5 separate regions of the Homo sapiens genome follow, and all the other regions are linked to region 1. The links come from fine-mapping of genetic effects on gene expression. A gene starts in region 1. Each other region holds a variant in brackets. All regions are shown on one strand. Distances are between the middles of the regions. Region 1 holds the start of MIOS-DT (MIOS divergent transcript). Region 2 holds the start of UMAD1 (UBAP1-MVB12-associated (UMA) domain containing 1). Region 3 overlaps MIOS (meiosis regulator for oocyte development). Region 4 has its middle 27 kb from the start of UMAD1. Region 5 overlaps COL28A1 (collagen type XXVIII alpha 1 chain).

Region 1 (5,107 bases):
GGCAGTGATTGTGGTGAGTTGAGACTACACCACAGCACTCCAGCCTGGGCGACAGAGCGAGGCTCCATCTCAAAAAAACAACAATAAAAAAATCCTATTAGGAATACAAAAGCTTAAATTAAAAACAAACAAAATACCGAGACTGAACTACAGTGGCCCTAGGATCTATTGTAAAACGCATGTTTAGTAAAGGCAACTAGTGTAATCTCAGACCAGTCTGTCAAGTTCTCTGCTACGGTTTACTGTTTCCAAAGATACAAAGCACTCACTCAACTCAGTAAATATTTTTTGGATACCTATGCAACAGGTGCTAAGGGAAATCCAAAGTTCCATGCTAAAAGATTGCTACCTGCAAGGATCTTGGTTTAGTAGAGAAGGGGAATCAGTTTCCAAAAAGACTGAGAAAGGTGTCACTTATTCCTGTGAGGGGCTTTAGAAGAATTAGTGGCAATATGAAAAAATATATACTTTCACAAAGCTTGAGTGGAAAAGAAAGTTGAAAAAGGGACATTAGCTGGAGGAGGATGTAGAATAAATACGTTGTTTTAGGATTTATTCAATACATTTTTATTTACCACATTTATTAGGTACTGTTTTACATCCTGGTGATTAAGCAGAGAATAAAATAGACAGAGCCCCTCTGTTTTAATTAGGGAATTGGCTAAGCTGCTCTACCAGGTCCAAACAAACAATGATTTTTTAAAGAACAAAGTTTATTTTCTCTTGCATAATGGTCCAGAAGTCTGTGGTTGATCCAAGGGAGGAGGTGCCCCAGCTCCCTGAGATTAGTTTGGGACTTAGGCTAGTGAGAACAGCTTTGCCTTCCTTAATACATGGCTTCCATTTCCAGTCTGTATTTCTTTTTGCCATTTGCCAGACAGCAAGAAGAGGGAAGAGAAAGTGTATAGCAAGCAGCTTTCCTTTTAAGGGACATGATCCAGTTCTACTCACATCTTACAGGACATAACTTTTTGATATAGCCTTACCTTGCTGAAAGGGAGGCCAAGGAATGTCATGTCTAAGTAGGTCACCAAGTGCCCTGCTCAAATTTGAATGTAGAGTTATTTCCTCTTACTAAAAAGAAAAAAAATACAGAATGAAAACTGGAGATAAGGAGAAGACACAGTCTAGAAGATAACTATAGGAAAGTAAAGAGATGGCGACGTATGTGAAGTTGTGGTGTCATAAAGACAACAACAAAGGAGCTAATTTATAGGTAGTCAGTGACAAGTGAGCAGTCTTGAGTAAAGGGAGAGTATGAGTCATGTAGATTTCTGCATTCCAGACAGAGGGAATAGCTAGTGAAGAAGCCCTGAGGCAAGAGCATGCTTGTCATGTTTAAGGAACAGTGAAGTCACAGGGATAAAAGACAAACCAGAAGAAAGTGATGATATGCAACAAAGTGAATGAGACATGTCAAGAGAGGAAGTAGTCAAGAACAACAGAAGTTGCAAGAGTGAAGCTTTGGCCATTGAAACTGGCAGCATGGAGCTCACAGGTGACCTTGACAAGTGGCAGTTTCGTGGCATGGTGGGCATGAAGGACTGAATGGAGTGAATTCAAGGGAGAGAGGGGGAAGTGGAATTACAGAGAGCAAATATGATCCTCTCCTTTGAAGAGAAAATGGGAATAACTTGAGTATGTGTTGAAAGTAAAGAACCAGTAGAAATGGAGAGGCAAAGATACATGGAAGTGAAGTAATTGATGGTGCAAGGTCCCAGAAGAGGAGATATACATGGGGTTCCTCCTCTTACTCTTTGTCACCTAAAAGAAGGTAAGAATGGTAGTGAATCAAGATGTTGGAGGAGGGAAGGAGGAAGCAGTGGGAGGTTGTGCAAATTCTAGCTAATAGTTTTAATTTTCTTTTCTGAAGTAGGAGGCAGTGTCATCTCCTGAGTGCAAGCAGAAAAGTTGTCCTCAACTATGTATAGTAGGAGTGGATAAGGAAGAGATTTGTATTGATCTGAGGTTTTGTGTGGGGGTTTGAGGCCAGGGTCAAAACCACTGAGAAGATTGGCAAGATAGTGTTTGAAGTGATGAATACTGTCATGTCTCCTCTCAGTAATACAGCACTTTCTTCAGCCTACATTCTTCTAATGGCAGGATTGGAAAGGCAATACTTTCCCCAAACTCATCATCTTATCAAAACCATCTGCCACCAAGATCATCAGGACTAAGCTCATTATGCTGTTTACAGCCATCACCACCACAAGCCCAAGACCACCCACTTTTAATCATGAACAGACAAGCAAAGACTGTCAGACATCTGAAGACTGCCTCGAGGTCAGACTCGTGACACCTGAGGCAGCACCATTCACTCAGTTTTGGGAACAAAAAACTTGGAATCCTCTTTCACCGTCATTCACTTGGTCAGTCACCAAGCTCTGTTCATCCCGCCTTCTAAGTATTCCCCAGGGCCCCCACTTCTCTCCATGCCCACTCTCCGTGCCACTGGTAACCTGCGTTTCTATCATCCCTCATTCTGATACTCTATCCCTCCAGCTCTCTGCGCAAAAACTGATCATACTGGCCGGGCACAGTGGCTCATGCCTGTAATCCCAGCACTTTGGGAGACCGAGGTGGGCGCATCACGAGGTCAAGAAATGAGACCACCCTCGCCAACATGGTGAAACCCCATCTCTCCTAAAAATACAAAAAATTACCTGGGCGTGGTGGCGCGCGCCTGTAGTCCCAGCTACTCGAGGTGCTGAGGCAGGAGAATCGCTTGAACCCGGGAGGCGGAGGTTGCAGTGAGGAGAGATCGCGCCATTGCATTCCAGCCTGGCGATATAGCCAGACTCCGTCTCAAAAAAAACAAAACAAAACAAAAAACTGATCATACCACTTGCCTGATTAAAAACTTTCGATGACTCTAACATTGCCTTTAGGTAAATGCCATCCAAACTCACTAAACTGGTTTCCAACCCGTTTCTGAAAGCACCTTAATCTCTCCCCACTTCCTCTGCTCATTCATCCATACCTACTGCCTCCTCACTGCTATGTCCTCTCTCCTGACCCGGCACTTGCTCTTTCCCAGTCCTAGAAGGCTCTTCTCTTCCAGTTCCCACTGCCCTTTTCCCTTTCCTGGCTAATCCCATACTCATCCTTCTTGTCTCAACCTAGTGGTCCTTAAGGAAGCTTTGCTGACCCCCGACACCGAGCGGGCGTCCCTCCTGTGTAGCACTGTGTTAGCCCTACCAAGTCAAGGCTCTCCTTGCCTGTTTCCTGCCGGAACCATGTCTTTTTACTTCACTCCTGTCTCCTCAGCATTCCAGCACAGTGCTGGGTACATAACAGGTGCTCAAGACAAGTTTGTGGAATGACTAATGAGTGAATAAATCATTAACCAAACACCTTGGATCTCCTACTACATCATTTGCAAAAAAAAAAAAATGTTTAATAGAAATTAAAATGGACCCAGTGAGCTAGAGTGTGTGACCCTGCTTAAAAACGACAGAGTGGTTCTGAGAAGCAGTCCCAGCCTAGGAACCCGGGGATCCGGCCTGTGGACCCACGGGCAGGGCCTGCGGGGTGCACCGGCGCTTTCGGGCGGAAGGCGGGGCCTCCCGGCCAGTGACCCCGCCCCGAGGCGCCTCCCGGGCGGGGAAGGGCGGGGCTCGCGCTGGGAAACTCCCCTTCCAAGGCCGAGGCGCCGCTGCGCGTCCTCCAGGCGTGGTGGTGGGGTCGTGGGTCCCAGCCCAGTGGTCCAGGTCACGGGCCGCACGGCCGCGGCCGCCATCTTGCCCGCGTCCGGGCTCCTGCGGCGGGCGGGGCGGTGTCCCGGCCGGAAGCGGCTGTGCGGCGGCCGCGCTGCCACCTCAGGTCAGTGAGCGCGACCCGGTTCGCGTCTCGACTCTCGGGAGCGCCGCGGCCGCAGCGAGGGGCCGGAGATAGCCTAGTTGAAAGGCCCGGGCGTCTCGGCGGGGAGCGCGTTCCGCGCTGTAGGGTAATCGCGCCGGGCGGCCGGCCGCCTGGCCGGGCCTCAGCGGGAGCCACCGGGGGCTGCGGGCGGCCGTGGGACCTGCGGAGACCTCCTCGGGGCGCAGGGAACACGCTACAGCCTTCGCCGCGGCGGGCTTGTGGGGAGCGGCGTCCCAGCCTTTCCCGGGAGGCTCAGCCAGGTGCCTGGAGCGGGAGAGTCGGACTCAGATTCCTGCTTTACCTAGAATAGCAACGTGCCCTGTTCCCGTTGTACCCTCTTAAATACTATACTTCTTAAACGGCCTGTCTCCCGGTGAGCTCTGTTCTCTTCTCATATGAGTAATGAAAATTAAGAGGATGAATGAAACCTCACACATGTTGTGGACTTTGCTGAATAGGTTAGCAAATGACTGCAGGCCTTTTGTATATTTTAAGGGAAATTTGGATATGTGCAGTGCATCTCCTCGAAGATGCTGATGGTGGAAATTTCTTGAAACCGCTCTCGTAATTTGCCACGGTAAGAAAAGTAAAAGACAACATCAAAAAGCATGTGGTTGGATCCTTTGTACACTGAGTAGTATTTTAATGTGTTGGACTTCACTGTCCAGTAGCCACATGGGATTGAGATGTGCTATAAGTGTAAAATACACATCGGATTTCCCAGAGTTGGTGCCAAAAAAACGTAAAAATCCTCAATAATTTTTGCATTGATTACATATTGAAAGGATAATGCTGTTGATATGTTGGCTAAATAAAATGTGTTTTTAAATTTCATTCCACCTAATTTTACTTTTTAAATGTGGCTACTAGAAATTTTTAAATCATATGGCTCACACTGTATTTCTTTTGGACAGTGCTGTTGCAAATATTCTGGTGAATGAACACAGAATCAGCATGGCTTTCCTTTGCTGAGAAATCACTGATGGGAAGTGAGACTTGTTAAACTTGAAAGGTGAGGATATAAATACAAGCTGTAATTATTGCAGACCGCACCCCTTCTACACCTAATTTTTTAATGTCTCCAAAATTTGGAAAAAACATTAACTTTCAGGGCTGATTAAGGGAATGGTAGTAATACTAACATCTGTGTGATGTGAAGAGCTCATTTCAGTTGATTGTCACAGCTTTGTGAGATGGAAATGGGATAGATTTTATCTCGGTTTTATGGTTTTGGAGTATTACAAGA
Region 2 (5,107 bases), 75 kb after region 1:
GGGAGATGCCATCTTTACAAAAAACAAAACAAAACAAAACAAAACAAAACAAAACAAAAATTAGCCAGGCATGGTTAAGCATGCCTGTAGTCCCAGCTACTGGGGAGGCTGACATGGGAGCAACTTGATCTTGGGAGGCTAAGGCTGCAGTGCGCCATGATGGTGCCACTGCATTCCACCCGGGGTAACAGAGTGAGACCCTGTCTCAAAACAAAAAAACAAAAACGAAACAAAAAACCTCTTGAGGAAGAAAAAAGCAACGTAAATTTTTCTTATGTGATTTTATGGTCTTTCATAAGGAATGAGAATTGTTATCCAACATTTATGGGATATGTTCAAAAATCATGACGCCCAAAAAATCATTGGTTAAAAATGTAAAAGGAAATATAATGAGAGAATAGTACAAGAATTAAATTTTACAGCCAGGGACGTTTTACCAGCTCATCCTTTTTAAATCCATTGCAAAAATTAGAAACATCGGCAACAAACCAAATCAAGATGAAGAATTAACTATAATATATAAGAGACTTATTAACACTTAAACATACGGGTTCCATCAACTCGATGGTTCCATTTTTTCCTTCTCCATCTGAAAGAATAAACATTTTTCCGGTGGGATGAATCTAAAAACGAAACATATAATTAAAATCTCACTAAAACAACAACAAAGTTTGACTAAAGATGAGTACATTGATCCTTAGTTGAGCACAAATCAACTGTTTCTTGAACAGTTTATTCATTCAGTTTATTCAACTTATTGGATCAAATTATAATCTTATGTTATCAAATCTGTTCATGGAACACACAGTTAATTTCTGAATTTCAGATAAACAAGGATTTTTTTTGTAGTGTTAAGTAGGTTCTGTATTTGCTAAATATGGCAACCCTATTCTGATAACAAATTAAAGGATGCCCACCCTAAAAGTGAAATCTGCTGGCACTCATGATTTAGACAGTACATATCCCACGGAGGGTATGTTTTAAAAAACAGGCATGATGAAGTAAAAGGAGAACTGGTTGCTAGAATATCTGGGTCCTACTCCTGGGAAGCAGCTGTAAAGAGCGCTGTCAGATTGCGTTTGAATGCCAGCTTTGCCATTTGCCGAGTTTCTGAGCATTTTAGTCAACCACCTACCACTCCTACTCAGTTTCCCTACTTGGGAAGTCAGAGCAACACTCATTTAAGGAAGAGGATGTGTGGATGAAATGAGCTACTAAATAAGTCTTTATATAATAGTTTTCTTTTCCTCAGCTTTTCAGGTCACTGATTCCAAGACTTTGGGCCTGTTTCTCGCCTGTAGAATGAGGGAACTTCACTTTAATACTGGGGTTAAATAACTCGTTACTACGGGACCCAAAGCGGACAACCAAGGCATGTTTTACAGAGAAGCGATCACAACGAGGAAACGAGGTTTGCAAAAATAAGTAATTTCAGAAGAGAAGGAAACCAGCAGATTAGTTTTGTCTGCGTCCGTCACGTCTGAGTAAACTAAGAAATCTGAAGGTAGATGTGGGAGTGGTGTTTATAATTTCCCTTACGTAAGCACGGCTAGAACGGAGGCGACGGGCACTGGAATTTAGAACTCAGCATTTGAAAACACTTTGTTTCCGTGCCATAAAAGAGCGCCAAAATGGGGCTACAACGGCTAAAGAATTTCCAAAAAGTTCCTTGTGCAAAATAAAGGAGTCGGGGGCGCAGTGATCGGAGGCTTTCCGTCCTTTTTCATCCCCCGTTATCCAGGCGGGGTCCCTCCCTCCAGCTACGGACTTGGGAGCCCATGATTGCGAACCCGCACACCTTTTCCAGCCTCCCTACGAAGCAGACAGGCTTGTCGATGAATTGAGCTAGCATGCCGGCGTTGATGCGCGACCTGGGCAAGTCCATCATGTCCACCATGATTATGGTCCAAGACTGCGGCTGGCGGGAAACCCACGGACGACTGAAACTGTGCGCCCCGCGGGTGTCTATGGGGCAGATTTCTCGGCACCAATCAGCGAAGACTAGCGCTCCAGCTTCGCCAATTAAATGCGCGGAAACCTAAATCGCAATCGCGCTGTCTCTGAAAGGGGTGGAGAAGGGGCTGGATGAGTCCGGAAGTGGAGATTGGCTGCTTAGTGACGCGCGGCGTCCCGGAAGTTGACAGATACAGGGCGAGAGGCAGTGGAGGCGGGACTTGGATAGGGGCGGAACCTGAGACTACCTTTCTGCGATCACAGGATTCCCGGCGGTGACTTGACCCCGGAAGTGGGGTGTGAAGCTCCGGTGCTGGTGCGGCGGGGGACTGCGGGGCCAGCCTCAGGTACCTCGTCTCGCGGGAGGCGCCGCAACCTTACTGTTTCCCCATTCTTCCCGCGAACAGAGTCAAAAGAGCTAGGCGGGAGTCGGCACTAGCTGCTGCCGCGGTGCTGTGGGTGCTGCGTACCAGCTGTTCACTGCTGTCTCGCCTTCCCTCTTGCCAGTTCTGCGTGGGAGGCGCGGGAGTTTTGCGGAATGATACGTGGTGTGGCGTCGGGGTTGTGATACCCGCCCCCTTGGAGATGGGCAGCGGGGTCATCAGTGATCTTGATCACTTTCTTCAGGCTTTTGCCACTTGTTGGCTGAGGGTCGATTTACTCCCTTAGCTGCGTCACTCTACTTTCTCCACTTTCTCCACCTGTAAGAAGAGAGATTGATCCGATTACTTCTAAGACGTTTTTTAGCCCAACCTGGCCACACTGCGGAGGCGCCGGTTCTTTCACCCCGCTAACCCCTCCGTGTTGGCAGCCAATAGAAGCACTTAAGGATGGGTAACGGGGAAGAACCACTGGCCAGTACTAGGGGAGACAAGCTTAAATCGTTGTTAGACCCCGAGCTAGGGTTCCCCGAGCTAGGGTTCTCCCTTCTGAGGCGTGTTTTCCCCATCTGCAAAACGAAGGGTTAGGCGGAATGATTTGCAAGGTCCCAGTTGACTCTGACTTTTGGCCATATGTTTGACTCA[A/G]CAGTTTAAACCCCCTCAGCAGTCTTTCTGTCGTTGCCCTCCACACTGCGAGACTCTGGAGGGCGATCTGGAGGTCTGGAAGATAACCGATTCCTGGGAGATTTGGGGGTAGTCTCCAATCTGTCCCTGGCTCATCTTGTGACCCGAAGCCGGCGGCCTTGCCAGGAGTATTCTAGAATGAGTGCACATAAAAATACCTTCAAACGGTACGGTGGAAATTGGACAGAAGTTTTAATTGGGTATTATAACGTTGTGGAAACTGAGTCTGTGAATTGGCCCAAAGCTACAGAATTGTCATCGTTCAAATTCCCTTAAGCAAAAAAGATCCGATTTGAGACTTCACGTGGCAATTTAAGATTGGAATCTCATGTACGATAATTAAATGATAGTCTCCCTTAGTGTTTCCTTAGCACTTAATAGGTTTGTCTTAGTTTTACTCACTAACGGTACTTTAAAGGATTTCATTAAACAGATGTAGAATGTGTGTCAGTGGTGTATAAAAAAGTTGTGGTTGTATTGGTGCAAGTCAGTAAAGTCTATTTTATATTACAGCTTTAAGTCTTTTGTACTTTAGCATTGTTTTGCAAAGCAAGTTGATGTGCATTATATAGGGGAGAGTACACACATCAATGTCTTTAATAGCATTTTTTTTTGAGGCAAGATCTCTCTCTGTCACCCAGACTGGAGTGCAGTAGCATGCACATAGCTCACTGCAGCCTTTAACTCGTAGGCTTAAGCGATCCTCTCACCTCAGCCTGCCAAGTAGCTGGGACTATAAGCACATACCACCACACCCAGCTAATAAAGATTTTTTTTTTGTTGTTTGTTTTTTTTTGTTCAGATGGGGCCTCGCCATGTTGACCAGGCTTATCTCAAACTCCTGGGCTCAGGCGATCCCTCCCTCCCCCGTCTCCCTCCCAAAGTACTGGAATTACAGGTGTGAGCCTTGGTGCGTACCCTGTAATAGTGATTTTTTTTTTTTTTAAAGAGCACTCCTGTGAGTACCAGATGTTAATGTCGTTGTTTACCTGCAGTTAGAAAGACCACTTTTAAGCAAAGGCTTTCTTTTAAAACAGGGAGATGAGCAGGAAGATAATTTAAAACAGCTTTTTCGTGTATTTTTGAGTCACTTAAAATATTATAAAATACATGATGTACAGAAAAAAGTATAGCTAGCCGATTTGCATAGTTTTGAGAGAAATGAAATGAATCCATGGGGCCTGTCATTCAGCTGAAGAAATGGAACTTTACCAGTTACCAGTAAATTTTACCAGTTTGCACTTCCCCAATGAAGCCCTCCTTGCTACAGCCATAAGTAAACACTATCTTGAAATTTGTGTTAAGCTTCCTAAGCTTTTCTAGGTGGTTTTATCACACATGCAGGCGTTGCTAAATGGTATGTTGTTTAATATTGCCAGTCTTTGACCTTTATATAAACAGAAACGTATGTATCTTCTGACTTCTTTTGTTTGTTTTTGAGATTCATCTATGTTGACGAATGTACGTAGATCATATTTTTTTTTCTGTTACAGGTAGGCATGAGTGGGACAGTAGTGGGCTCTCCCCCAACCCACTAGAAATGTTGGGGGATGGTTTGGCAATTACCGAATTTGCTTCTCTAAAAATGATAATTCTGCAGCGCCAGGGAGAGGCCATTTCCTGATGGTCCACACCTGTTATCAAAATGTTAATTGAATGTAGACCCGAGGGAGAAACAGCTTCCTGGGCATGCATATTAAGAGACAAAAATGGTAAAGTATGATCTTCCAGGTACACTCCACCGGAAAAAGGAAGGAAGCCTCAGATGGGCGTGCATGTAACTCCCTAAAAACACTTCCCAAGGCTAAGGAGGGCTCTGTGCCTGCCGGCAGCCTATCCTAAGGAAAGAATCATGGGAAATAGACAAGCTTGTAAAAGTCCTAGGATCAGGGCCGGGCGCGGTGGCTCACGCCTGTAATCCCAGCACTTTGGGAGGCTGAAGCGGGTGGATCACCTCAGATCAGAAGTTCAAGACCACCCTGGTCAACATGGTGAAACCCTGTCTCTACTAAATATACAAAAAAGTATCCAGGCGCGATGGCGGGGGCCTGTAGTCCCAGCTACTCGGGAGGCTGAGGCAGGAGAATGGC
Region 3 (5,107 bases), 37 kb after region 1:
AATACAGGAGCACCCAGATTCATAAAGCAAGTCCTTAGTGACCTACAAAGAGACTTAGACTCCCACACAATAATAATGGGAGACTTTAACACCCCACTGTCAACATTAGACAGATCAACGAGGCAGAAAGTGAACAAGGATATCCAGGAATTGAACTCCGCTCTGCACCAAGCGGACCTAATAGACATCTACAGAACTCTCCACCCCAAATCAACAGCATATACATTCTTTTCAGCACCACACCACACCTTTTCCAAAATTGACCACATAGTTGGAAGTAAAGCACTCCTCAGCAAATGTAAAAGAACAGAAATTATAACAAACTGTCTCTCAGACCACAGTGCAATCAAACTAGAACTCAGGATTAAGACATTCACTCCAAACCGCTCAACTACATGGAAACTGAACAACGTGCTCCTGAATGACTACTGGGTACATAACGAAATGAAGGCAGAAATAAAGATGTTCTTTGAAACCAACGAGAACAAAGACACAACATACCAGAATCTCTGGGACACATTCAAAGCAGTGTTTAGAGGGAAATTTATAGCACTAAATGCCCACGAGAGTAAGCAGGAAAGATCTAAAATTGACACCCTAACATCACAATTGAAAGAACTAGAGAAGCAAGAGCAAACACATTGAAAAGCTAGCAAAAGGCAAGAAATAACTAAGATCAGAGCAGAACTGAAGGAAATAGAGACACAAAAGACCCTTCAAAAAATCAATGAATCCAGGAGCTGGTTTTTTTTTTGAAAAGATCAACAAAATTGATAGACTGCTAGCAAGACTAATAAAGAAGAAAAGAGAGAAAAATCAAATAGACGCAATAAAAAATGACAAAGGGGATATCACCACCGATCCCACAGAAATACAAACTACCATCAGAGAATACCATAAACACCTCTATGCAAATAAACTAGAAAATCTAGAAGAAATGGATAAATTCCTGGACACATACACCCTCCCAAGACTAAACCAGGAAGAAGTTGAATCTCTGAATAGACCAATAACAGGATCTGAAATTGAGGCAATCCTTAATAGCTTACCAACCAAAAAAAGTCCAGGACCAGATGGATTCACAGCCGAACTCTACCAGAGGTACAAGGAGGAGCTGGTACCATTCCTTCTGAAACTATTCCAATCAATAGAAAAAGAGGGAATCCTCCCCAACTCATTTTATGAGGCCAGCATCATCCTGATACCAAAGACTGGCAGAGACACAACAAAAAAAGAGAATTTTAGGCCAATATCCTTGATGAACATTGATGCAAAAATCCTCAATAAAATACTGGCAAACCAAATCCAGCAACACATCAAAAAGCTTATCCACCATGATCAAGTGGGCTTCATCCCTGGGATGCAAGGCTGGTTCAACATACGAAAATCAATAAATGTAATCCAGCACATAAACAGAACCAAAGACAAAAACCACATGATTATCTCAATAGATGCAGAAAAGGCCTTTGACAAAATTCAACAACCCTTCATGCTAAAAACTCTCAATAAATTAGGTATTGATGGGATGTATCACGAAATAATAAGAGCTATCTATGACACACCCACAGCCAATATCATACTGAATGGACAAAAAACTGGAAGCATTCCCTTTGAAAACTGGCACAAGACAGGGATGCCCTCTCTCACCACTCCTATTCAACATAGTGTTGGAAGTTCTGGCCAGGGCAATCAGACAGGAGAAGGAAATAAAGGGCATTCATTTAGGAAAAGAGGAAGTCAAATTGTCCCTGTTTGCAGATGACATGATTGTATACCTAGAAATCCCCATTGTCTCAGCCCAAAATCTCCTTAAGCTGATAAGCAACTTCAGCAAAGTCTCAGGATACAAAATCAATGTGCAGAAATCACAAGCATTCTTATACACCAATAACAGACAAACAGAGAGCCAAATCATGAGTGAACTCCCATTCACAATTGCTTCAAAGAGAATAAAATACCTAGGAATCCAACTTACAAGGGATGTGAAGGACCTCTTCAAGGAGAACTACAAACTACTGCTCAAGGAAATAAAAGAGGATACAAACAAATGGAAGAACATTCCATGCTCATGGGTGGGAAGAATCAATATCATGAAAATGGCCATACTGCCCAAGGTAATTTATAGATTCAGTGCCATCCCCATCAAGCTACCAATGACTTTCTTCACAGAATTGAAAAAAACTAAAGTTCATATGGAACCAAAAAAGAGCCCGCATTGCCAAGTCAATCCCAAGCCAAAAGAACAAAGCCGGAGGCATCACACTACCTGACTTCAAACTATACTACAAGGCTACAGTAACCAAAACAGCATGGTACTGGTACCAAAACAGAGATATAGACCAATGGAAC[G/A]GAACAGAGCCCTCAGAAATAATGCCACCTATCTACAACCATCTGATCTTTGACAAACCTGAGAAAAACAAGCAATGGGGAAAGGATTCCCTATTTAATAAATGGTGCTGGGAAAACTGGCTAGCCATATGTAGAAAGCTGAAACTGGATCCCTTCCTTACACCTTATACAAAAATTAATTCAAGATGGATTAAAGACTTAAACGTTAGACCTAAAACCGTAAAAACCCTAGAAGAAAGGCAATACCATTCAGGACATAGGCATGGGCAAGGACTTCATGTCTAAAACACCAAAAGCAATGGCAACAAAAGCCAAAATTGACAAATGGGATCTAATTAAACTAAAGAGCTTCTGCACAGCAAAAGAAACTACCATCAGAGTGAACAGGCAACCTACAAAATGGGAGAAAATTTTTGCAACCTACTCATCTGACAAAGGGCTAATATCCAGAAGCTACAATGAACTGAAACAAATTTACAAGAAAAAAACAACCCCATCAAAAACTGGGCAAAGGATATGAACAGACACTTCTCAAAAGAAGACATTTATGCAGCCAAAAAACACGTGAAAAAATGTTCATCATCACTGGCCATCAGAGAAATGCAAATCAAAACCACAATGAGATACCATCTCACACCAGTTAGAATGGCGATCATTAAAAAGTCAGGAAACAACAGGTGTTGGAGAGGATGTGAAGAAATAGGAACACTTTTACACTGTTGGTGGGACTGTAAACTAGTTCAACCATTGTGGAAGTCAGTGTGGCGATTCCTCAGGGATCTAGAACTAGAAATACCATTTGACCCAGCCATTCTATTACTGGGTATATACCCAAAGGATTATAAATCATGCTGCTATAAAGACACATGCACACGTATGTTTATTGCAGCACTATTCACAATAGCAAAGACTTGGAACCAAGCCAGATATCCAACAATGATAGACTGGATTAAGAAAATGTGGCACATATACACCATGGAATACTATGCAGCCATAAAAAATGATGAGTTCATGTCCTTTGTAGGGACATGGATGAAGCTGGAAACCATCATTCTCAGCAAACTATCGCAAGGACAAAAATCCAAACACCGCATGTTCTCACTGACAGGCGGGAATTGAACAATTTGAGAACACATGGACACAGTAAGGGGAACATTACACATCGGGGACTGTTGTGGGGTGCGGGGAAGGGGGAGGGATAGCATTAGGAGATATACCTAATGCTAAATGACGAGTTAATGGGTGGAGCACACCAACATGGCACATGTATACATATATAACAAACCTGCACGTTGTGCACATGTACCCTAAAACTTTAATAATAATAAAATTTAAAAAAAAATAAAGTGCTGGCTAGTGGCTCGAGTATCTAAACCTCCCTGGTGCTTTGCCTGCAATCAGAGATTGCATCCATCCATCATGCTTTGTGATTCAAATAGCTGGAATTTCTATAAGCTTATTTAACTGAGAGTTGATATTTTTATACTCAATTGTGCTTTGAAGATTAGAAATCTGTTGAAACAGTTCTAACATCATTATAAACATTATAAATATTATTTATTCAACAAATGTTTATTTGGTACCTATTGTTCCAAGTGCTAGAAATGTTACAGTAAAGAAGACAAAAATCGCTGCCCTTACAGAATTTAACTTCTGGACAATGACACATTTTTTAAAAGTTAGATTATCTACTGGTTTCCTTCATTTTCTTCTTACATTATGAGTTAATGCATAAGTGAAACTCTAGTTTCGCCTAAAGTGTTCTGTGGCACTTGTCTTCATAATTCACTATAAATCTTTTAAAATTTGAAGTCATTTGATCTTAAGCCTTTATACTTGGCAGTGAGATAGACCTTAATACTTCCAGTTTCGTCAGAAAAATATAAGGATATGCCTTGTTCTGATTCAGTCTGTTATCTGTTTATGTTAGAAGTTACAAAAACAAAGTGACAAGCACTAATGAGAGCTTTACACAAAGGTGTAAAGTAGTGTACATATCAGATCTATATTTTATTTATCTCTTCCCCCTTTCCTTTTTGCCCTCTCATTATTAATTGTTGGTGACCCTTTCAGGAGTAATTCTAGTGTGTTTACATCTTTAATCATTGAATTACTTACACATCCTTTCACCTCATATCATTAGCAAAAACGGATATTTTTTAAAACTATTCCCGACTGCAAGATTATCCTTTTGGTCATGAAAGCGTGACCTGCAATGGTCCAAGCAAAATTTTTAACATAGTTATCGATGCATAATGTCTTTATAGATAGCAATTAAGTAAAAATATTAAGTCTAATTAAGCAATTGTTTAAGTTACACAAGTCTCATGAAGTGCATTGGGAAACTTTCTGCTTTTTCTCTTCTTTGAAAGGGCTTGTACAGATGAGAATTACCTGTCCCTTGATAGATTTTTTTTTTTTTTTGAGACAAAGTCTTGCTCCATCACCCAGCCTGGAGTGCAGCAGTGCAATCTCGGCTCCCTGCAGCCTCCAATCCCCAGATTTAAGCAATTCTTGTGCCTCAGCCTCCCAAGTAGGTGGGACTACAGGCATGTGTCACCACCCCCGGCCAATTTTTGTATTTTTAACAGAGACGGAGTTTCACCATGTTGGCCAGACTGGTCGTGAACTCCTAGCCTCAAGTGGTCTGCCCGCCTCAGCCTCCCAAAGTGCTGGGATTACAGGCATGAGCCATCACACCCAGCCCTACCTGTTCCTTGAATGTTAAGTAAAATTCACTTGTAAACTGGGCCTGGTA
Region 4 (5,107 bases), 48 kb after region 1:
CCTCCTGTTTTACTGTCTCATACATCATGATGCCTATTAGAGAAATACTAGAATCCTTCTCACTATAGACAGGAATAAGAAGTGGATGCTGTTGTCACTGGTTCTGCACATGGCAATGAAAAAGAAGAAAGCGAAAGGCACACCTTTGCTTCTTTTCCAAGTCATCAAAATTTGATATGGCAAAAATCATAGTTACAAGGCAAACAAATTGATAAACTACAACATTTATGACAAATTGCCTTAATTCAGAAAGGACATTTTCAAAGCCGAGGAAAAAACAATCAGTAGATAATATCAATCAAAGACTTGTGCAAGCAAAATAGAACTGCTGACAAATAAATGCTAAATCAGTAACATGCTGATTAAAAAGTAGAATACTGTTCGCCTGACTGCATAGATTTAAAATAATAGGCATTTTCATGGATGTGGGAAGGAAACATTCTGAGATAACAGCTTATGAGAGTTTAAGTCTTGAGGACAGGTAAACTGTATTAATCAGAAGCCGTAAAGAGTTTCATACCCTTTGACATAGTATGCTGGGAATATTTTCTGAGGGATTGATTGCATAAGTGCACAAAGATGTATATTTTTATGATACGGTTCTACACAGTATTGTTTATAATAAAAACTTGGAAACCTAAATGTCCAATAATAGAAAAGAATAAATTATTGTATATACATACAGTGGGTTACTAAGAAATGATTCAATTAGTATAGATATTTTCATTGACAAAGGTTTCTTAATATATTGGTAAGTGAAAGGGAAGTTTTAGGATAGTATATCTAGCATATAAATATATTTGTTTGGGATATGGTTAATACAGAAACTTTAACAGTGGCCATCTTTAAAGAGTGGAATTTTGAGTAACATTTTCTTCATATCTATCTTTCATTTTTCCCAATAATAATGAATATATAAATGTACATGCATCTCTCTGTCTCACTCTGTCTCTCGCGCACACACACACATACACACCATATATGTATATACTGGCTTTTAGAAAAGTTATCCATGACCTTGTATCTTGTTATTAAACACAGTGAAACAATCATATGTTAGGATTTATTCTATGCGGTGAAAAAACAGGCTACAAGATGTTATGAAAATTTGGATTGAGATCTAATTGTTCAGAAAGCATTTTCTAGATTTCTTACTCTACACTAGTAATATACAAGAATAACAAGATATAGTCCTCTCAATTCTTCATTACATTTGGAAGTAGTGCATTATGTTCTCCACTTAGCGTATTGGGAAATGAATATGTAAAATAATTCTGATTTCCCTGAGCTTAGTGGTACATGATTAATAACTTCATTTCAATATTTTTTCTCCTATATCTTCGTCATGAGATTTCCTGACTCCTCTTTTTTGGCTCTGGGTCTGTGGTGGGAAAGCTGTCCTCCTCTATGTACTGAATTTATGTGATTATTGTCCAGTCTAATCTGGCATGCACTTTGCTCAATTCATTTCCAATAATAGCAGGTTATTTAGGTTTAAGTGATGAATTCTGAACATGCCTGTGTGTCTTTGCTTCACCAAAACACAGAACCATACCTACGTGTGCTGGACAGTGTTAAAGGTTCTGATGTTAAAGGATTGATGGCACCATAGTTGCCTTGGAGGAGTTGTATGTCTAATGGAAGAGGCAGATCCAGGCATAGTTTTCAGCAGATTCAAATCTATTAAGCTTAATATTTACAACTGCTATAGCATTTGCATAAAATGAGTATCATTTTAGCATCTCTGCAAGCCAGAAAATGTCTATTTGATTTTCTCATTTTGGACTTTAAAAATTATTTTCCAATTAAAAATAATTTGAGGAAATAGAGATTTCCATAACGTTTTTCAAAAATGTAATTTTCTTACTCATCTACTAATGGCACAGTGTTTTAAAATGCTTTGCTAAAAAGGCAGCTTTAGGATTAAAGGATAATTTATGTAATGTTAGAAACAGCAGCAATAATAATTCAGTAGAGACTTTCATCATTCAATTTATGAAAAGCATATTGCCTTAACATAATTTCTTAACTGGAAATTTAGATGCAGGAATCAAATTAGTCTCTTAAAATATAAAGTCACAAAGACAAGTCTGGAGGAGCATTTGAAGGGATTAATGTCTCACAGCTTGAAACATATATGTAAGAATTCATGCAAACTATTTATCTTACATCTTTTTATTTAAAGAATTTTAGCTCCATCTACACATAAGAAAGCCTGGAGTTTGAAATAATAGTT[G/C]TCCAAATTCATGCTTATCCAGATTTATATCACATTGCAGCCACATATTTTGCTGATGATAGTTAAATAAGAAGTTGCTACTGTAAAATGTAAAGCTAAGTATCCTTTTTAGCACCATGTATTATTTCATAGTAAAAATTGGAATGTTACAATATTCCTGTGGTGTTATGTCAAAAAAATATTTTCATCGTCAATTTGAAAACTTTTATTATGCATTAAGTAGGTATACTTAATATTTGAACAACTATGGATGTGTATCTTTATGGTACATAAATGTTCCCAAAATAGATGAAGATGTGTATTTATGAAGCAAACATATTCAGCGATGTGACAAATGTGAGAGAAGTATCTCTTGATAAAGTAATACTTCTTTAAAAATTAATATGTTTTATCATTTCAAATCTTCTGATCTTTTTCTTCCATTCTTCAAAAATGGAATGTATGGTCACTTGTCACTCTTAGTACAGATTAGCATTTTTAAACATAGACGGCTTTCTGAAATACATTAAATGCTTTTTGGAAAATTGAGTGTAACTCTTTGAATGAATGCTAAGATACTGTTGGCTTCCAAAAGAGAATACTCCAGACAGGGTACATTTTTTCTCTTTTTCTACTGGAAGAACCAGACACAATTTAGAGACAAGTAAGCTGAGGACAGATTTTCAAGGTCATCTGGGAACAACTACTCTTTTAGAAACATTGTATTGTTTTTTAATATATTTTATTGAATTTTGTTACTTCTGTCTTCAGAAAATGTTATATGAATACAGAAAATGTATGTTCCCTGTGGGGACCTGGGAAATTAAAAACGTGTATCATCCTGATAAAACATATCTCATGGGAAAAATTGGCCAAAACAGTTAGTTACTCAGTATATCTCCAGGTTTGCATCTTCTACTTCTTATGTATTCATTTAGAGTCCTCTTCCAGTGTGTGGACCTCTGCAGATTCTAGATAACTTTTCAAATATGCTAGATTTTGAGCTGTATATTTTTTCTCAAGCAGAGACATCTGCGCATAGTGAAAATCAATTCTCAGAGACCAAAATTGCCAAGCATACGTGACGGAACTGTAGGGAAAAAGGGCATAACTTTAATCTTCAAAGAAGCTTAAAAATAGCTCCACAGTTATTATGCATGAGGCCTGACAATTGACATTTCTCATTTTGGCAGCATTCACCTACAGCACCCTATCAGCAACTGAACACATTCATCTCTGGAATAAATGATTAATGAGCTGCCTATCATTTCCACTCCTTTTGTACCAAGTGGTGGAGGCTTCAGTTGATCATATTGCAGCCATCAACATCATTACTGAAATTGATTCTGCCACTAGAGGGTTGTGCTAGGATCATCAATTAGCATTTAAATTAAAAAGTTATGGCATTAAAAATAACAAAAAAATAATCCCTTCTGAGTCACTCTGTCAGACCTGGTAAGGTGATTTTGTTTTTTTGCTCATCAGACAGCATCACAAAACCTTAGATTGAGGAAGGAAGCATGGAAGGATTGTTTTTGTTTCAAGAACAACCCTCTAAGATTTCCAAACTTTTTATTAATCACTGTCATGTTCCTTGAAATGCAGATTTATGAAATGCTACAATTTGCATTCAATAGTGACCAATGAAGTTGCCAAATTATTTCCTTCAGACAAAAAGTCAAAGGATAGAGTTAGGCATTTTTGAAAGGTCAGAATTTATCCAGAAAGGGGGAAGTTAGAGGAAGGAGATTTACAAATGATACTGAGATACAGCAAAATAAAGTTTTTCTTATATTTCAGCAGGCAGATGTGAGAATGAAGTGAAAAGAACATCATCATTTAGATGTCGGGATGATGTGGGCTGCATTTCTAAAACAGATGGCAGATAATGTGGGTCTCCATAGTCCTACAAAAAAGTGACAGATTGTAGTTTTGGTAAAATGATACATCAAGGAAAATGAATGGTACTTGGAATAGGTATTTTAGCATCTCTTTCTGCTCCTGGGACCAAGTTCCTCAAGTTCTCAATATTACTGAGCTTAAACTCCTTCCTCATCTATGTTCATCTTCCAGCATGGCTTTCTCCTATTTCCTCATTGTTTCCTCTCTCTTCCCCTGTTGAATTTCAAATTCAAATATAAACAGTTGGTTTTGGTTTTATCTGCCTCTGAATTAAGACACTACCTTTACTACATTGTATTGGTCACCCAATTGAAGTGCATGTGCATTTTCTTCAGAGCTGAGACGCATTGATTATACAACAAAATGGAGCTATCATAGGTCCTCAATCCAGCTGCTCTGTCCTATACTTGATTAATATTCTTTCCACAATCTGTTGGTAGTGGTATTGTGACTTTTCATTTCTGTCTTTGTGAAATTTTAAGAAGAAGCTAACAAAGGCTGCTTTGAGGACTGCTAAGTAGAGGACATTTTTACCTAACATTGATTAATGTAGATAGCTGAGACTTACTTGTATTTTGAAAAATGGGAAGAAAATGGTCATGGTAAGAAGCACTGGGTGATAAGAAAAACACATAGTAACAAGATTTCTACATGTGAGCCAATAGCAAACTTCCTCTATGTGTTAAAATTCTCCAATGAGAAATACAGCAACTCGTTTCAGACACCATGAGATGGACAGGTTAGGCCAAGTTGTGCTTGACCTAGTGGTGAATGACCACACACTTCTTTACCTTTGGCACAAGTGGTTCATCAATCTCCCACTTTCCCTCAGATCCTTTTTCAGCGTAGTATTCTAGGCACCAACTGCCAACTGGCCAGTGTTCACCTGTTTGTCATTTTCAGCTTAACTACCAATTTGGACAATTGGAGAGGTATTCGAACCGGATGGTAAAGCTGAAATTAGATCTCAAGTCTCTTCACTGAAGTCTA
Region 5 (5,107 bases), 180 kb before region 1:
GAGTATAGTACAGTAAGATATTTTGAGAGAGACCACATTCACATAACTTTGATGACAGTATATTGCTTATAGTTGTTCTATTTTATTATGTGTTTGTTAATCTCCTACTGTGCCTAATTTTAAATTAGGCCTTATTATAGGTATGTGTATATAGAAAAAACATAGCATATTTAGGGTTTGGTAGTATCCAAGGTTTCAAGCATCCACTGGGAATATCGGAACATATCTCCTGCAGATAAGGAGGGACTACTGTAATCTTTTCCCACCAGGAAACTTGATATCATTGGGAGCCCCAGAACCCTGGATAGGAATTTGTACCAGTTAAATAAACCCTAAACATTAAACTGACACTGGCATTCCAAGATGAAAATTCAATCAAAAAAAAGGAGAGGAGAAAAATTTGTCCTGTTTCCAAAGATGGCACTCCCAACATAGGTGTCATGAAGATGAATAGGTGGGAAAGTGTAGATAACACAGAACAGCCTCATGAGGCTCCCTGCAAAACATGCTCTAATAGGAGTGGATCTGCAGCCTGCTTCTGAACATGAAGGTTAGTGGGGTCTGCCTACATACAGACTAGCAGCCAGCCCCCAGAGTGATATGCAGGACTGCAGGCAGCTACCTGCCTGAGGTTATACCATCTTCTTCTGTTCAAATCAAAAGGAAAACAAACGCAAATAGTATAGGAACGATATCTCTTAAGAAAGATGTCTTGGTAAATCACACTTTGGTATAAATTTGTTTTCTCAGATTTTTTGTGGAGGTGAATGAGGACATTTTCATTCAATGAGGTACCTGGTAGAAGGTTTGGGTTGCAAGGGAGATGCGTCAGACCGCTGTACCTAAGTTAGGGGGTACAGTTGGCCAGGGATAAGACAGACTAAAGGCTCATGGGAGAACACTAAGAGGAAATCCATGGTTGGCTTTGTCTCAGCCTGAAAGGACAGAACAGTGTGATAAACAGAGGAGCTGAGACTGTGGTGTGATGGTGAATTATCGCTAGGAGTTATATGTTTAGACAAAGTGAATCCAGAAAGAATGCCATACCTTTCTGACAATTACTCAGAATAATTATTTCTTTTGCAATATTTCAGATTCCTCCAGAAGATGTCCAATACATGTTCATGACTAACTAGCTGCCTTTAAGAAATGACACAATTTCCTAATATAGCTAAAACCTACTGTTGTAAGGGGAAGCATGACACGTGCCTGAGGGAAAAAACATTAGAGTAGCAAATTATCTTGTTAGGGTAATGTTCAGGAACTTCTTTTGCATTACTTCACAATGTAAGTATTTTCTATATAACTGTTAACACTATAGATATTCCAGGCAGCTAGATTTCCCTATAATAAAGGCAATTCATTTTCTTTTTAATCACTAGTTTCCCTTCAAAATACTTAAAGGCTTCCTATAACTTTCAGAGTAGACTATCTAGCTAAAAGCCTTTAGCAAGTAAATCCATGTCTGATCTTGGCAGAGGTGAATGCTATCCAATCAGACTTTTCAATGTATAAGTCTCAGGAAAATGATAAACAATGATTTGAGTGTGGGTCAGAAACAACTGCAGGAAACAACCTATTTTATTGGAAGCTATAATTAAATCTAAATTTCAAACCCTGGTTAATCACTATATCACCACATTAGATGGGTCCTGATAAAGAAGTGATCATTTTCATTTTTCAGATGACTGCTTGTTCTCTGGGAGAGAAATTTCTAAGAATAATGCACATCTACCTGAATGTTTCCATTGATTTATTTGTGCATTACTGATACGTCAGGAAACAATGATTTTTCTTTCGAAATGTTTTCTCAGTAAGGTGTGGTAAGAAAAAAATCAAATTTATAGATGATCATAAAATGTAAAATGGACATCTGGCTTCTGCCAGTGTGTAGAAAAGTGGAAAAAAATGCTACTCTCATTCTTAAAGCCCCAACAACAAAAAATGAGAACTAATCTGTGAAGTCACAGCTTTTCTTGAATCCATCATAGAGCTGTGGTTGCAGGGCATCCCGCCAATTCAGCATCTAAGGAAAGTCAAGATCCTTCAAGGAGACACAGGCTTGGAAATTCACCTACCTGGTGGAGGTGCCACATGTTATACAAGCTGGTGAGAATTTAGCTAAAATTTTTAACAGGATGCTAAAGGCTGAGTGTGGGATAGCAGGAGGGGATAGGACCCCTGGGAGCTGCAGGCACAAGAGAAAATCACAGCTACTCACAGACTCTTCTCAGGGACTTTGCTGGTGCTCAAGAGAAAGACTGGGGCCAGGACTAGGGTCAGGAGTAGGCTTCCCTTGTGGTGCTAGCCTGGGAAGGGAAGCACAGGTCCCACAGGTCGCAGTCTGTTTGTGCTGCTATAACAAAATACCATAGACTGGGTGGCTTATAAACAACAGCAGATTATCTCTCACAGTTCTGGAGGCTAGAAAGCCCACGATCAAGGAATTGGCAAATTCAGTGTCTGGTGAGGGTCCATTTCCTGGTTCATAGGTGGCACCTTCTTGCCGTGTCCTCACATGGTGGAAGGGACAAGACAGCTCCCTGGGGCCTCCTTTATAAGGGTGCTAATCCCATTCCTGAGGACAGAGGTGACCTAATCACCACCCCAAGGCCCCACTTCCTAACGCCATCGACTTGGGGGTTAAAATTTCAACATATGAATGTGGGGACCATATGAATTTTCAGACCACATTCTGTTTCCTTTTGAAGGAAACAGAATAAACCTTGCAAGAATGAATCCTGGGCCCAGATCTTTAGAGATGCCCTACTATTTGTGGAGGGTCAGGAAACCACGCCCAGACCATTAGAT[G/A]CCTCCTCGTACGGGTTTGCTGGAACACATAAAACTGCATACTAAAAAGAGTAAATTTTACTGCATATAAATAATCCTTTACTAAAGAATAAAACAATACTTTAAAAAGTTAAAAAGAATTAGATAAACACTTGGCAAAATTTAAATGAGTTCTATAGATTAAATAGTATTATATCAATAATTTTCTGATGTTTATTATTGTACTGTGTTATATAAGAGAATGTGCTTGTTTGTAGCAAAAATACTGATGTATTAGGAGTAAATGGGTACCAAATCTGAATTTTACTCTCAAGCGTTGCAGAAAAATAATATGACACAGACATATATATATATATGCAAAGTGATATAGCAAATGTGGTAATATTAACATTTATAGAATCTGGGTAAAGGATATATAAAAATTCTTTGTATTATCTTTGCAACTTTTTTTGCAAGTCTGAAATTATTTCAAAATAAAAGTTAAACATTAATACATAAAATGAATGCATGAATAAACGTACCAAGTGGTTGCAAAAAGATGTCAGCTATCACTGCTGCAGCGGCTAAAGCATATGAGTATACAGGTACTTTGCCTACTCAAAGTTTGGGAGCCCAAAGGCTAAAAGAAAATCAAAAGACCTAAAACAAAGCTGCAGGTGTGGATTTCTCCCTACGCAGAAACAGCTTCTGCTGTTTGAATTCAGGAGGCTTCTACTGTTACCAGAAGCCTCTATACTTCCCTAGGATTTGTATTCATACCAATTTCAGTTCAATTTTTTTAAATTATAATTTCTGGGGTACATGTGCAGAACATGGTTTGTTACATAGGTATGCATGTGTCACGGTGGTTAGCTGAACCCATCAACCCATCATCTACGTTAGACATTTCTCCTAATGCTATCCCTCCCCTAGCCCCCCACCCCATGACAGGCCTTGGTGTGTGATGTTCCCCTCCCTGTACCCATGTGTTCTCATTTTTCAACTCCCAGTTATGAGTGAGAACATGCAGTGTTCAGTTTCCTGTTCTTATGTTAGTTTGCTAAGAATGATGGTTTCCAGCTTCATCCATGTCTCTGCAAAGGACATGAACTCATCCTTTTTTATGGCTGCATAGTATTCCATGGTGTATATTGCCACTTTTCTTTATCCAGTCCATCATTAACGGGCATTTGGGTTGGTTCCATGCCTTTGCTATTGTGAACAGCGCCGCGATAAACATGTGGGTGCATGTGTCTTTATAGAATGATTTATAATCCCTTGGGTATATACCCAGTAATGGGATTGCTGGGTCAAATGGTATTTCTGGTTCTAGATCCTTGAGGAATCGCCACACTGTCTTCCACATGGTTGAACTAATTTACACTCCCACCAACACTGTAAAAGCATTCCTATTTCTCCACATCCTCTCCAGCATCTGTAGTTTTCTGACTTTTTAATGATCGCCATTCTAACTGGTGTGAGATGGTATCTCATTGTGGTTTTGATTGGCATTTCTCTAATGACAGTGATGATGAGCTTTTTTTCACGTTTGCTGACTACATATATGTCTTCTTTTGAGAAGTGTCTGTTCATATCCTTCACCCACTTTTTGATGGGGTTGTTTTTTTCTTGTAAATTTAAGTTCTTTGTAGATTCTGGATATTAGCCCTTTGTCAGATGGATAGATAGCAAAAATTTTCTCCCATTCTGTAGGTTGCCTGTTCACTCTGATGATAGTTTCTTTTGCTGTGCAGAAGCTCTTTAGTTTATTAGATCCCATTTGTCAATTTTGGCTTTGGTCGCCATTGCTTTTGGTATTTTAGTCATGAAGCCTTTGCCCATGCCTATGTCCTGAATGGTATTGCCTAGGTTTTCTTCTAGGGTTTTTTTTTAAGGTTTTAGGTCTTACTTAAGTCTTTAATCCATCTTGAGTTAATTTTTGTATAAAGTGTAAGGAAGGGGTCCAGTTTCATTTTCTGCATATGACTAGCCAGTTTTCCCAACACCATTTATTAAATAGGAAATCCTTTCCTCATTGCTTGTTTTTGTCAGGTTTGTCAAAGACCAGATGGTTGTAGATGTATAGTGTTATTTCTGAGGCTTCTGTTCTGTTCCACTGGTCAACATATCTGTTTTGGTACCAATACCATGCTGTTTGGGTTACTGTAGCCTCATTGTATAGTTTGAAGTCAGGTAGCGTAATCCCTCCAGCTTTGTCCTTTTTGCTTAAGATTGTCTTGGTTATGTGAGCTCTTTTTTGATTCCATAAGATATTTAAAGTAGATTTTTCTAAATCTGTGATGGAAGTCAATAGTAGCTTGATAGGGATTGCATTGAA

The links. PIP is the estimated chance that this variant, and not a neighbour inherited with it, causes the effect.
Region 2: its variant is fine-mapped to the expression of MIOS-DT in thyroid (GTEx, PIP above 0.99).
Region 3: its variant is fine-mapped to the expression of MIOS-DT in tibial artery (GTEx, PIP above 0.99).
Region 4: its variant is fine-mapped to the expression of MIOS-DT in tibial nerve (GTEx, PIP above 0.99).
Region 5: its variant is fine-mapped to the expression of MIOS-DT in esophagus mucosa (GTEx, PIP 0.95).

The regions. Positions count from the first base shown.
Region 1 is chr7:7,563,251-7,568,357 of GRCh38, forward strand. MIOS-DT (MIOS divergent transcript) reads right to left here and starts at 2,815. Exons shown (of 5, transcript NR_110084.1): 1 at 2,664-2,815; 2 at 987-1,074. MIOS (meiosis regulator for oocyte development) reads left to right here and starts at 3,634. Exons shown (of 13, transcript NM_019005.4): 1 at 3,634-3,822; 2 at 4,357-4,438; 3 at 4,776-4,873. RefSeq lists a silencer at 3,455-4,104 and an enhancer at 4,355-4,424.
Region 2 is chr7:7,638,522-7,643,628 of GRCh38, forward strand. RPA3 (replication protein A3) reads right to left here. Exons shown (of 8, transcript NM_002947.5): 5 at 1,799-2,654; 6 at 549-623. The coding sequence starts at 1,897. UMAD1 (UBAP1-MVB12-associated (UMA) domain containing 1) reads left to right here and starts at 2,231. Exons shown (of 4, transcript NM_001302348.2): 1 at 2,231-2,300. RefSeq lists enhancers at 1,412-1,461, 1,832-1,881, 2,152-2,351, 2,392-2,441, 2,522-2,691 and a silencer at 1,922-2,051. The variant A/G (reference allele first, on the strand shown) is at 2,979.
Region 3 is chr7:7,600,540-7,605,646 of GRCh38, forward strand. The region is part of intron 11 of MIOS (meiosis regulator for oocyte development); the gene reads left to right. Among named protein-coding and RNA genes, the nearest start is that of MIOS, 36 kb to the left of the region's middle. The variant G/A (reference allele first, on the strand shown) is at 2,350.
Region 4 is chr7:7,611,110-7,616,216 of GRCh38, forward strand. No RefSeq gene overlaps it. Among named protein-coding and RNA genes, the nearest start is that of UMAD1, 27 kb to the right of the region's middle. The variant G/C (reference allele first, on the strand shown) is at 2,237.
Region 5 is chr7:7,384,462-7,389,568 of GRCh38, forward strand. The region is part of intron 27 of COL28A1 (collagen type XXVIII alpha 1 chain); the gene reads right to left. Among named protein-coding and RNA genes, the nearest start is that of LINC03016, 130 kb to the left of the region's middle. The variant G/A (reference allele first, on the strand shown) is at 2,812.